Regions from separate parts of the Homo sapiens genome. Here region 1 is linked to region 2. The links come from fine-mapping of genetic effects on gene expression. A gene starts in region 2. The other region holds a variant in brackets. All regions are shown on one strand. Distances are from middle to middle. Region 1 overlaps APPBP2 (amyloid beta precursor protein binding protein 2). Region 2 holds the start of APPBP2 (amyloid beta precursor protein binding protein 2).

What was found. PIP is the estimated chance that this variant, and not a neighbour inherited with it, causes the effect.
Region 1: its variant is the best candidate, but not a certain one, in a credible set for the expression of APPBP2 in monocytes after R848 (Quach 2016, PIP 0.87).

The regions. Positions count from the first base shown.
Region 1 is chr17:60,441,767-60,447,015 of GRCh38, reverse strand. APPBP2 (amyloid beta precursor protein binding protein 2) reads left to right here. Exons shown (of 13, transcript NM_006380.5): 13 at 1-3,858. Among named protein-coding and RNA genes, the nearest start is that of CHCT1, 22 kb to the right of the region's middle. The variant T/C (reference allele first, on the strand shown) is at 2,339.
Region 2 is chr17:60,523,773-60,529,001 of GRCh38, reverse strand. APPBP2 (amyloid beta precursor protein binding protein 2) reads left to right here and starts at 2,760. Exons shown (of 13, transcript NM_006380.5): 1 at 2,760-3,208. The coding sequence starts at 3,071. RefSeq lists a silencer at 2,931-3,070 and enhancers at 3,151-3,420, 3,141-3,849.

The DNA of each region.
Region 1 (5,249 bases), 82 kb after region 2:
GGAAAGGACTGTCAGATTCATCTGAACTGGACCAGTGTTGATCTGTAATGTAATAGAAAATCTGATAGACCAGCACTTCTGACTTTTTTTTTTTTGGTACAACAATGCAAGATGCTCTGATAGCATTTGCTAACAGGACCAGGAGGATCTAAAAAGGACCAGCCTAATGTAGAAGGTGGTTACTTGGACCAGAGGCTTTAGATTATTATTTTAGATCCTACATATACTTTTATCAGTAGAATGATTTCATTTAGATGTATAATGAAAAAGGATAATGCAAAAATTATGTAATAGATACCAAATTAGGGAAGTTTGGCAATTTCAATGGCATATTTTTAGTCAAGGTACACAGATGGCAGTGCCATAAGCAAGTCTATAAATATCGGCTGCAGCCATCCCCCTCATTTTAAATGTTGCCCTAATAATCAATGCAGTTAACAAGTATATTGGCTGTGTGTCATGAAATAGTTCATGTTCAGATGGAAATGTTAGGTTACTGTATGGTTTATGGAGATTAATGAAAATGAATGCCCAAAAATAAGTCTTAGAAAATCCTCCATTTTTATGGTAAATAGTAATACAACTAGGTCATTTCATTTGAAATCTAGGAGTCAAATGGAAAGATCCCCTAATAATACACCTATTTCACTAACTTGTCTTTCTGTTTATTGGGTTTTGATTTGATTTTTTGTAAGCCAGTCAGGTTATTTAATGATGAGGTAATAATCAAATTTAAGAATTTGTGACATGTAGCAATTCAAGAAACAAAAAGGTATTTTGCTGTTACCTCAATTCTTACTGTAGTAGCCCATCTGATGCTTCTATAGTTAAGAATCTGGGTTCCCCCCCTATTTTCAGGGGTTCATGACTTGGCTGTTAAAGATGTTGCTCCTAGCTAATGCTTGGAGTAGTCTGTGGGTGAATGGATGTGTGTTGAATTTTAGTTTTCTTTTAACATGCATGTTGGGTGAGAGGGGAAAAAAATCTAAGCTGTCTGCCACATTGAGTACAGAAAAGTTGTAGATTTCAAATTTTATTAATATTTTAAGCACTTTTTTGAACTTCCCAACCTTGTTTGAAGCTGTTATTTGCAGTCCTATTAGTTTTGAGCCATTGCATTTAAGTTCCCTAGGAGGGGGTTGGTTGGGGGATGTACTGAAAGAGATGAAGCAAACCCACACCCTAAGATGGTAACTGTGTGATTTAGAAACCTGAGTTTACTCCTCAAATCGAATTATTTTCTTTTTAAATTTTGGAAAGAGTAAATTGACGTACTTGCAGTTTATGAAGCTGCCCCCCACCCCTCAGTTAATTGCAGTCTAATGTCAAGAGGCACTTCTTTATTAATTACCAAATAGTCTTTGTGACCAAGGACTAACATTTTTAAGTTACTCAGCTCTATCCTCATGGGCCTATATATTTAATACCTCCAAAGATATTTTCAGGATAGGCTTTGTATACTTTTATTGGTTATTTAGAATCCAGTGGTATGTTTGTGGTATAGGAATGTCATGGTAAATTGTTTTTCAATAAATATTTTGAAACATGTTTCCATATGAAGTTTTTTTTTCAATCTGTATTTTTTGGTTTTGTGCACATACAGCATTTCCTAGGATAAAAATAAACAAATGACTTACAGCCTCATCCTCCCTAACTCCATTTGAACTCAACTTAGCTCACACTCAGTGATAAAACAACATGGTATGTAGAAGCCTAGGATCACAGGGTGATAATGTCAATTGGCAGCCAGTTGTGTTTTTTTGAAACATCATTATTGGCAGTTTCTCCTTATCACCACTGCTTTAATGTAGTTTTTTTGTAAATCCATATACTTTAATGCATACACTCTAGCTTAAGAAAACATTGCCATTTTGGTTAGGGATATGACTTAATGTGCTATTATTTCTGGTTCTAATGAAGAATAATACCCTATGACTTTAAGTGTAAGATTCATCCTTTAAGTAGGGATGTTTAGGATAAGTTAGATGTGTGCCACTATGATTTATTGGGTTTCTTAAAAATCTTGAAGAAAATAATAAAATTTATCTCACAATAAGTTAACTTGCGCAAACTTTTTACATATGGTGAGGTGCGTAAGGAAGCCCTGGCCAACTTAAAGATTTTTCTGGAGGTTCAGCAAAGTTATGTTAAATTAGGGGCCTTTGGTCTCATCCTTCTCTGACTCTTCTACCCAGTCTTTTCCTAAAGTTCGGTGCTACTCCAGTTGGGTGCATCAGGGAGCTCCGTCAGCACTCGCATGTGTCGCTCAGGTGGCCACTCATGCCTGCATTCCATTTAATAGAGTCAATTGGAATTTTTAGAGCATAATCTTTATGGA[T/C]CCTCAAAGCTGACTTTGCCAAAGGGATTGAGACCCTTACTACCATCAAATCTCTGTCTCTGCTTGGTTAAAAATTGGCTCACTATTGCTTTGTAGTAACCCCTGCCCAGGTATTTTTTCACTTGTGAAAATAATTTGAGAAAGACCTTTGTTCCTAGCCTGTTGGGAAAAGTTTATAATTTTATGAAAATTAAGTACAGAGGCTGCGATCTTAGAAATAATGAAGGTGCCATTTGGCTGCTCCTTAATAGTGCAGACAGAAAACTGCAGTGAACACATGCCAAAACATGATTGAAGCCTTTGGCTGAAACTTTATACATAGAAATAATGATTTGCTCATAACAGGTATCATTAACTGCCACTTTTTATGTTTTCCCTAGAATTTGTAGCCTTGCTGCTTGCTTTTCTTCTGGGTGGCAAAGTTACTACTGGAAAAACACTATAAGTACAAAGTTTTTGGGGTTTTATCTTTGCTTTAGAAGTGGATGTGTACTTCACCTCTTGGCTGTGGAGGAACTTAGTTGCCAGGAAATTTTTTTTTTTTTTTTCAGACGGAGTTTCGCTCTTGTTGCCCAGGCTGGGAGGGCAATGGCACCGTCTTGGCTCACTGCAACCTCCGCCTCCCGGGTTCCAGCGATTCTCCTGCCTCAGCCTTCCGAGTAGCTGGGATTACAGGCTCCTGCCACCACGCCTGGCTAGGAAATTTTTTGTTGTTAATATGACATTTGGATTAATCTCCAGCTTCAACAGTACTTCTTTTGTCCATAAATCTCAGGAATGTTTTAGGCAGAAAACTGGTTTTACCCTGTTGATAATCAGAAGGAGTGTGCTTTAGGATTTATTGCATAATACTATTCTTTAATTGCAATCCTAGGTATCTATAGCATGAGTGGCCTTAGTGAGTTTGTTGAAGTGCACATGTTTTTCAAGAGTAAAATTTAAGATTAAAAATATATCCTATATATAGATATCTAGAAAACTTGGTTTGTGGTGCACAGTTAAGTGTTGGATCACTAAATAACCATTGCAGGTACCGTTTGTGTAACATTACTCATTTCTGTATATTCCTTTTATGGGAAGATATTTTGCCATGGTAACTAAAACTTTTCAGTTCTACTTTTATGATGTGAATGAATGCTACGTTTTATTAAATATTACCAGGTCAGTACTATTTTTATACTTTATTAAGCAACAGGGGATTTTAGTTTAATAGGCTCAAAATAAAAAGTTCTTAATGGAACAGTTAAAAACAAAACACTAACAATCTTTACGTGAAAATCCCCACTAATAGTGCCACAATAATTTCTATAGAAATATCTAAGGTCATTAAATAGATTTTTGAAGACGGTTCTTCATTGTGTCAGGATGACCTTTCATATCATTCTCACCAACTTGTAGTGCCCACCGTTATTTGTAACTATTAAACCATACTAAGTATGTTTGTAACCAGCATTGTGATATATTCTGTACTTGTATTGCTAAAAATGAATTATTGACCTAATAAATATAGTGTTCCTGCATTCATAGTGTATCTGTTTCCAATTTGGTTTTGATTGCTTTTGGTTGGGATTAAGCTTTGCAGACTGTTTTTATTAGAGAACAGTGTGAGAGAAACTGTTGGAACTAGAACAAAAGTGCTCTTGTTCAAGAAAATTAAGATGTGTGGCAGAGGAGGCGCATGGTAACATCTGGAGATTGTGCTGATGAAAAGCACTTGGAAAAAGACAAAGCACTGCATTAATGCAAAGGGATTTTTTAGTCTTTACAAAAGTATACCATTCTTTTAAGAATCCTCTCACTCTAAAGGCTGAAGATGAATGATGAGACCTGGTAAAGTTCTGCTGGAATAGTGAAGAAAAGCCTAGATTGGAGTTTCAGTTCCAGCTGTCTCTGAACTGGAAGATTCTGAGTTACGTCATTCCAGCCCTCTTTGTGTTTTATTTCCTCACATGAATAAGGGGGTAAAATCAGGTCTTTAAAAAACTTCACCATGAAACAGCATAAATCTGAAGGACTCAGAAACCAGTTGTAGGAAACGAAGCCATATTTTTAAAGATTAGGAAGAAAATATTGTAGACAAAATCCCACCATCACTTGGAATATAGTCAGCACCAGCTTCACTGCCTGCCACCTTCAGTGATACTGAATTTAAAAATGTTTCTTTTTACATCTCCATGACTGAACCTCTGAACATGCGATTTCGTCGTCCTTGTGGAATGCCATTTCCTGGATAGTGTTGCTCATCTGTCAAGCTCAAAGATCAAGGGAACCCTTCCCTTAAAGTTTGAGTTGCCACTTGGTATTAATGCAGCATTTTAGAGCTTTGTGAAAGCAATTACCATATGGCCATATAACTTACAGTGTTAAGACTCTTTCCAACTTGTAAACTTTGCTGATCTGTGTATTCAACATAGAGTTTATCCTGTGACAGATACTGTCCTGAGTGTGTTAGCAAACCACACTCAGTTACTTTAAGCGCACATTTCTATAGACAAATGCCCATTAGGATGGCTATTACAGAAAGTAAGTGTTGGCAAGGATGTGCAGAAATGAGAGCCCTTGTGCACTGTTGACAGGAATGTAAAATGCTGCATCTGCTGTGAAAAACTATCACCTGTGCTCAAAAAATTAAAAACAATTACTCTTATGATCCAGCAATTCAACTTCTGGGTATAGATCCAAAAGAATTGAAAGGGTCTTGAACAGATATTTATATACCCGTGTAGCAGCATTATTTGCAGTAGCCAAAAGCGAAAGCAACCTAAATGTCTTAACAATGCATGAACAGATAAATATGGCAGGCCAGGCGTGGTGGCTCATGTGTATTCCTAACTCTGGGAGGCAGGCCGACGCAGGAGGATTATTTGAGCCCAGGAGTTCGAGACCAGCCTGGGCAACAAGGTGAAATGCT
Region 2 (5,229 bases):
CCCCAAGGGCCCACTTGGTGCTCTACCCCTCTGTGGCCATGCTGGCATCTGAAGCCAGCAAGTCTCAGAGGTTCACCCAAGGTCCTCAACATAGTATCTGGGTATATCTGCTGGTCATTTAGGGCCCAAGGGCTCTTCAGTTAGAAGGTGATGAATACTGCCAGGACTAAGTCCTTCTCAGGGGACTTATCCTTTCTGGCAGTTTATCTGCTCTTGGTCACGACCTCCTAGTCCATCATACACATCTGAATAACTTTCAATCTGAAAGCAGTGAAGAAGGGATCAAGAGGCCCTTCCATCCAGAGTCCCCTTTGTGACTATATACATTTTTTAATGTCTAACTCAGTCATATGGTTTTGCTCTGTGTCCCCACCCAAATCTCATCTTGAATTGTACTCTGATAATTCCCACGTGTTGTGGGAGGGACCCAGTGGGAGATCACTGAATCATGGGGGTGGTTTCTCCCACGCTGTTCTTGTGGTAGTCTCATGAGATCTGATGGTTTTATAAGGAGAAACTCCTTTCGGTTGTCTCTTTTTGCCTGCTGCCATCCACATTAAGATGTGACTTGCTCCTCCTTGCCTTCCACCATGATTGTGAGGCCTCCTCAGCCATGTGGAACTGTAAACCCAATAAACCTCTTTCTTTTATAAATTGCCCAGTCTCAGCTATGTCTTTATTAGCAGTGTGTAAACGGACTAATACACTCAGCATCTAAGGTCCATAAAGCAATCAATATGTGTGTCTGACACACCTTTACCTGTTTACAGGAGCTTAATACGGGTCCTGATTTAGCCAAAATGTCCAAGAACATGTGCATTCAATGTTAGGGGATTCATGGATCCCTTTAGGTAGGATTGCTGGATAAAATACAGGTGTCCAGTTAAATGTGAGTTTCAGATGAACAACAAAGTTTTTTGTTGTTGTTGTTTTCTGAGACAGGGTCTCATTCTGCCACCCAGGCTGGAGTGCAGTGGCATGATCATGGCTCACTCAACATTCTGGGCTCAAGTAATCCTCCTGCCTCAGCCTCCTGAGTAGCTAGGACTACAGGTGCACACCACCACATGTGGCTATTTTTTTTTTGTAGAGATGGGGTCTTGCTATGTTGCCCAGGCTGGTCACAAATAAGTTTTTAGTATAAATATGTCCCCTGCAATATTTGCAGAGATAATAATTATTCTTTTATGTGGGGCAGGGATCCTGATCTTCAAAAGCGCCAGTGTCTAAGAAGTGATGAAGGATTTGCTGAATGAACTGATACACTTGAGTGGCTCCGAAGGCATGAGCAAAACTATTGCACAGAACATACTTACATTTCAAAACCATTTGTTGTTTATCTGACATTAAGATGTGACTGGGCACTTGTAATTTTTTTTTTCTTTTTTTTGAGACGGAGTCTCGCTCTGTTGCCCAGGCTGGAGTGCAGTGGCGCGATCCTGGCTCACTGCAAGCTCCGCCTCCCGGGTTCACGCCATTCTCCTGCCTCAGCCTCCCGAGTAGCTGGGACTACAGGCGCCCGCCACCACGGGCTAATTTTTTGTATTTTTAGTAAAGACGGGGTTTCACCGTGTTAGCCAGGATGGTCTCGATCTCCTGACCTCGTGATCCACCCGCCTCGGCCTCCCAAGTGCTGAGATTACAGGTGTGAGCCACCGCGCCCAGCCTTGTAGTTTTTTACTTGCTAAACTGGCAATCTGATCTTGAGGCCATCCACAGCTTTCCTAGGTTCACAGTATAGAGTAAGAATTTATATAGACTGAAGAAGATTAAGAGTGTTTATTTTTTGTGGAATTATTTAACCACTTAACACTGAAGTACCAGGTGAAGGGTAAATTGAAATAACTCTTTCCACTTCTTTTAGCTCTAAATATCAATCAGGACATTATTATTATGGCTGTTTTCTGGACTTACATCGTTATAGAGTGACTATGAGTTTGATAGTGTCACCAACAATTATGGCCAATAATTTCCATGGTAAATTCCTAGAACAGAAAGATGTTGCATCAAATTCTTGAAATCGCAGACTTAGGAAATTAAGTTACATAAACAGCAGATGTTCAGGCTGAGGAAGGAAAGAAGCTGAAACAAGTACTCCCAATTATTCAACAATCCCTTGAAGCCGCCACTGTAACTCTGGGAATTGAAATACCATTAAGTCCTATCACGGCCACCACTTAGCCTTTTTTCTCTTACTATTATTTGTAATTCCATAATCAAGCTAGTTTTCCTACGAAGTTCTGGGGCAGGAGTTTTCTTTTTTCGGAAATTTCATTTGGATAAAGAAACATGGTCAAAAAGTTACAACGGTGCAAATGGTTATACAAAGAAAAACAAGTCTCTCTTCTATCGTTACCCCTAGTTCCTGGACCGCGGGTTCTTAACTTGGGTTAGGAACTGCAGTCTAAGGGTTTCTAGAGTAATGTGAATTTTCTCAATGCATAATTTTCAATGTACAGATAATTTTGCTCGTTTGTGGGGAGAGGATCCAAACTTTTACCTGAGCCTCAAAAGGGTCCGTGATGCAGAGAACCTGCTGAAGTAACCGATGGCCCCGAGTGACTCGGAACAGGGGGCGCAGATATCCTGTAATAATTTGTCCCCGTGTGAAAAGTCTACCCCTATCCACTCCACTCCACTCCACTCCGGGGCCGCTTGGAAGGGACGCTCTCCGTGGGAGGCATCCAGCTCTTCCTAAGTTTTCCGCCTGCCGCATTCCTCCCCTCCGGCGCGCCGGCGTGCGCTTACGTCATGACGCCGCACACGCAGCCCCGCCCCTGCAGAGATCAGCGCTGGGACGGAACCCGGGTTCCTCTCGAACCGGGATTGTGACGCTTTTGGCCTGGCTGGCCGCTGTTTTCTGTCCCACTTTTTACTCGGGCCTGCGTCCGCTGCCGCCGTCCCTCAGTTTGCCCCCGGAGGAGGCAGGGCGGCCGTGCCTTCTGCCGTGCGCCCGCGTGGCTGCCACCGCCCCTCCGAATCCTCCGGGGCCGCAGAGGGGTTCGCTACGGAGGGAGGTGGGGGCCTTCGGGAGGAGGAGGCGGAGGAGGCGGAGGAGGAGGGAAGGAAGATGGCGGCCGTGGAACTAGAGTGGATCCCAGAGACTCTCTATAACACCGCCATCTCCGCTGTCGTGGACAACTACATCCGCTCCCGCCGAGACATCCGCTCCTTGCCCGAGAACATCCAGTTTGATGTTTACTACAAGGTATGCGCCGTGGGCCTCCTCTCTGCTCTCCTCCAGCAACCCCGGGGGCCGCACCCCCTTCCACGTCTGCGAACCCCCGCAGTTAACCCCTCACCCCTTCCGGCAGACTTGCCTCCCGAAACGTCTGGTGCGGTGTCTGCATTGCCAGTGGAGAAGCACCCCATCTCCCTATGCCCTGTCTCTTAAGCTTTGGGGCCTTGAAGTAATCTTGGGGAGTCTTGCTCCCTGTTGGTGTTCCCTTCTACACAGTGGCCCTCTTGGGTAGGCCTTTTGCGTGGACTTACTCTATCGCGCCCCTGTCCCACCTAGTCCTTTCCTTCTAGCCCGTATCTTCAGGATATTTTCCATCCTCTCCTTCCAATTAAGTGTCAGCATCAGCTGGACTTTTTTCCGTGCTCCTCCCCCCACCCATTCCTACTTTCTCATCTCGCCGCCTTCCTTCCCCGAGTGTTTTGGTGTTTTTGCTTCGTGTTCCTTCGTTTCTCCTTTCTTTTCCCAATTGGGAAGGAGTTAGGGATTATTGGAAATAATCTGTGTGTTTTATTTGCATATTCTTTAAAGCTTTGATTTTTTTGTGGGAGAGGAGGGGCTCTATACTTGAATTAGGGATTTTGTGAAAATGGGAGTGCTGATCAACTGTTTGAAGAGGACAGGGAGAGATCTTTACTGAAAGAAAAAAACACTTTAGATTATGTTCCTGTGTTTGAAAGTTGCAATCTTGCAGCATTCTTAAATCACTCCCCCTCAAAAATCTGAACAGCAAGTCTCCCAAGCCACTCTCCAAGGAGTTTCAAGGGTAAGTGTCCTTAGATGTGGACTATTTTTGCAGTGTTTTCAGAGTGTGGAGAACTTTATGGACTCAGAGCCTGCCCTTTTCTCTCCCCCACATTTGAATGTGAACACTGGATTTATTATTCAGTCTTCCTTGTCTTGAATCCGCGTCGATAACTCCTAGTGTCCAGTAGCCACCCATGCAAAATGTGACTAAAAGTAGAATGTAATTTATTTTTTAGACCTTAAATACTTCCTCTTGATCTGTAAGTTGGCTGGAACAGTGTAAACTGATATTTTAACAGATGTTTATGTTCTTACGTATGTACAGTGTTTTGTGGCAGTTGTTTTATTGGGAAGATTGCCTGCTTTCTCCACCCCTAGATTTTTTTTTTTTTTTTTTTTTTTTTTTCAGAATTAGCAGTTGATGGGCTGCGTTCTACTAAATCCAGCTGCTTTGCACCAATTCTAACAATTAAAGTGGGGTTTCCCCCCTAAATATTTGGAGAAGATTCATTTAGGTCATGCGTATTATTATTTTGGATTTCGAGAAAAAGCTCCCTTTTTTCCTAATCCCTTTGATACATTGATTTACTTTTGTGTATTCTAAGGAAATTTTGTTCATTTAAGATACATTCCTCCCCAGGAAGGACAAATTAGATTTGTCTTTCTCAGCCTGGGAAACTGCAGCTTTGTGTGTGCTCTCTGTCCATTTTATTAAATCATGTGTAATCTTGTACCTCATATGTAATCTCTCAGAGGAAATCATTGGGAATGTAATCCAAGTGTATTTACTAGTTGAATTCGTTCAAAATACTTGAATATCTTTTAGTAACTTTCACTTCTAATTGAAGCTTTTCATTTGAAGATTATTAGTATGAATAGATGGTGCTTTTGTTAGAATTTCTGTTTCACATAGTTCACACAGTTTTAATATTGCTCCTTTTTGGTACACTTTTACTTCTTAATAGTTGTATGCTTATTGGGAGTATGGCACTGTGCTAAGATGAGGGAAGTGTTAAACATGTGCCTGTAACTATGTTGTGCTTTTATGTGTTATTTTGTTTAATCTTCAGAATTAAACTGTGAAGTAGAGTACAGTATAACCTTGCTTTATTGGTGAGAAAGTTAAGTAATTTAATTAAGGTCTCAAACCTGATATTTAGTTCCTGAGTTCCTTGCTCTTTTACTTAGATATCTATCTTAAGATAGTAGATTATTTTAATGAAAGATATTATAACACTAATTTT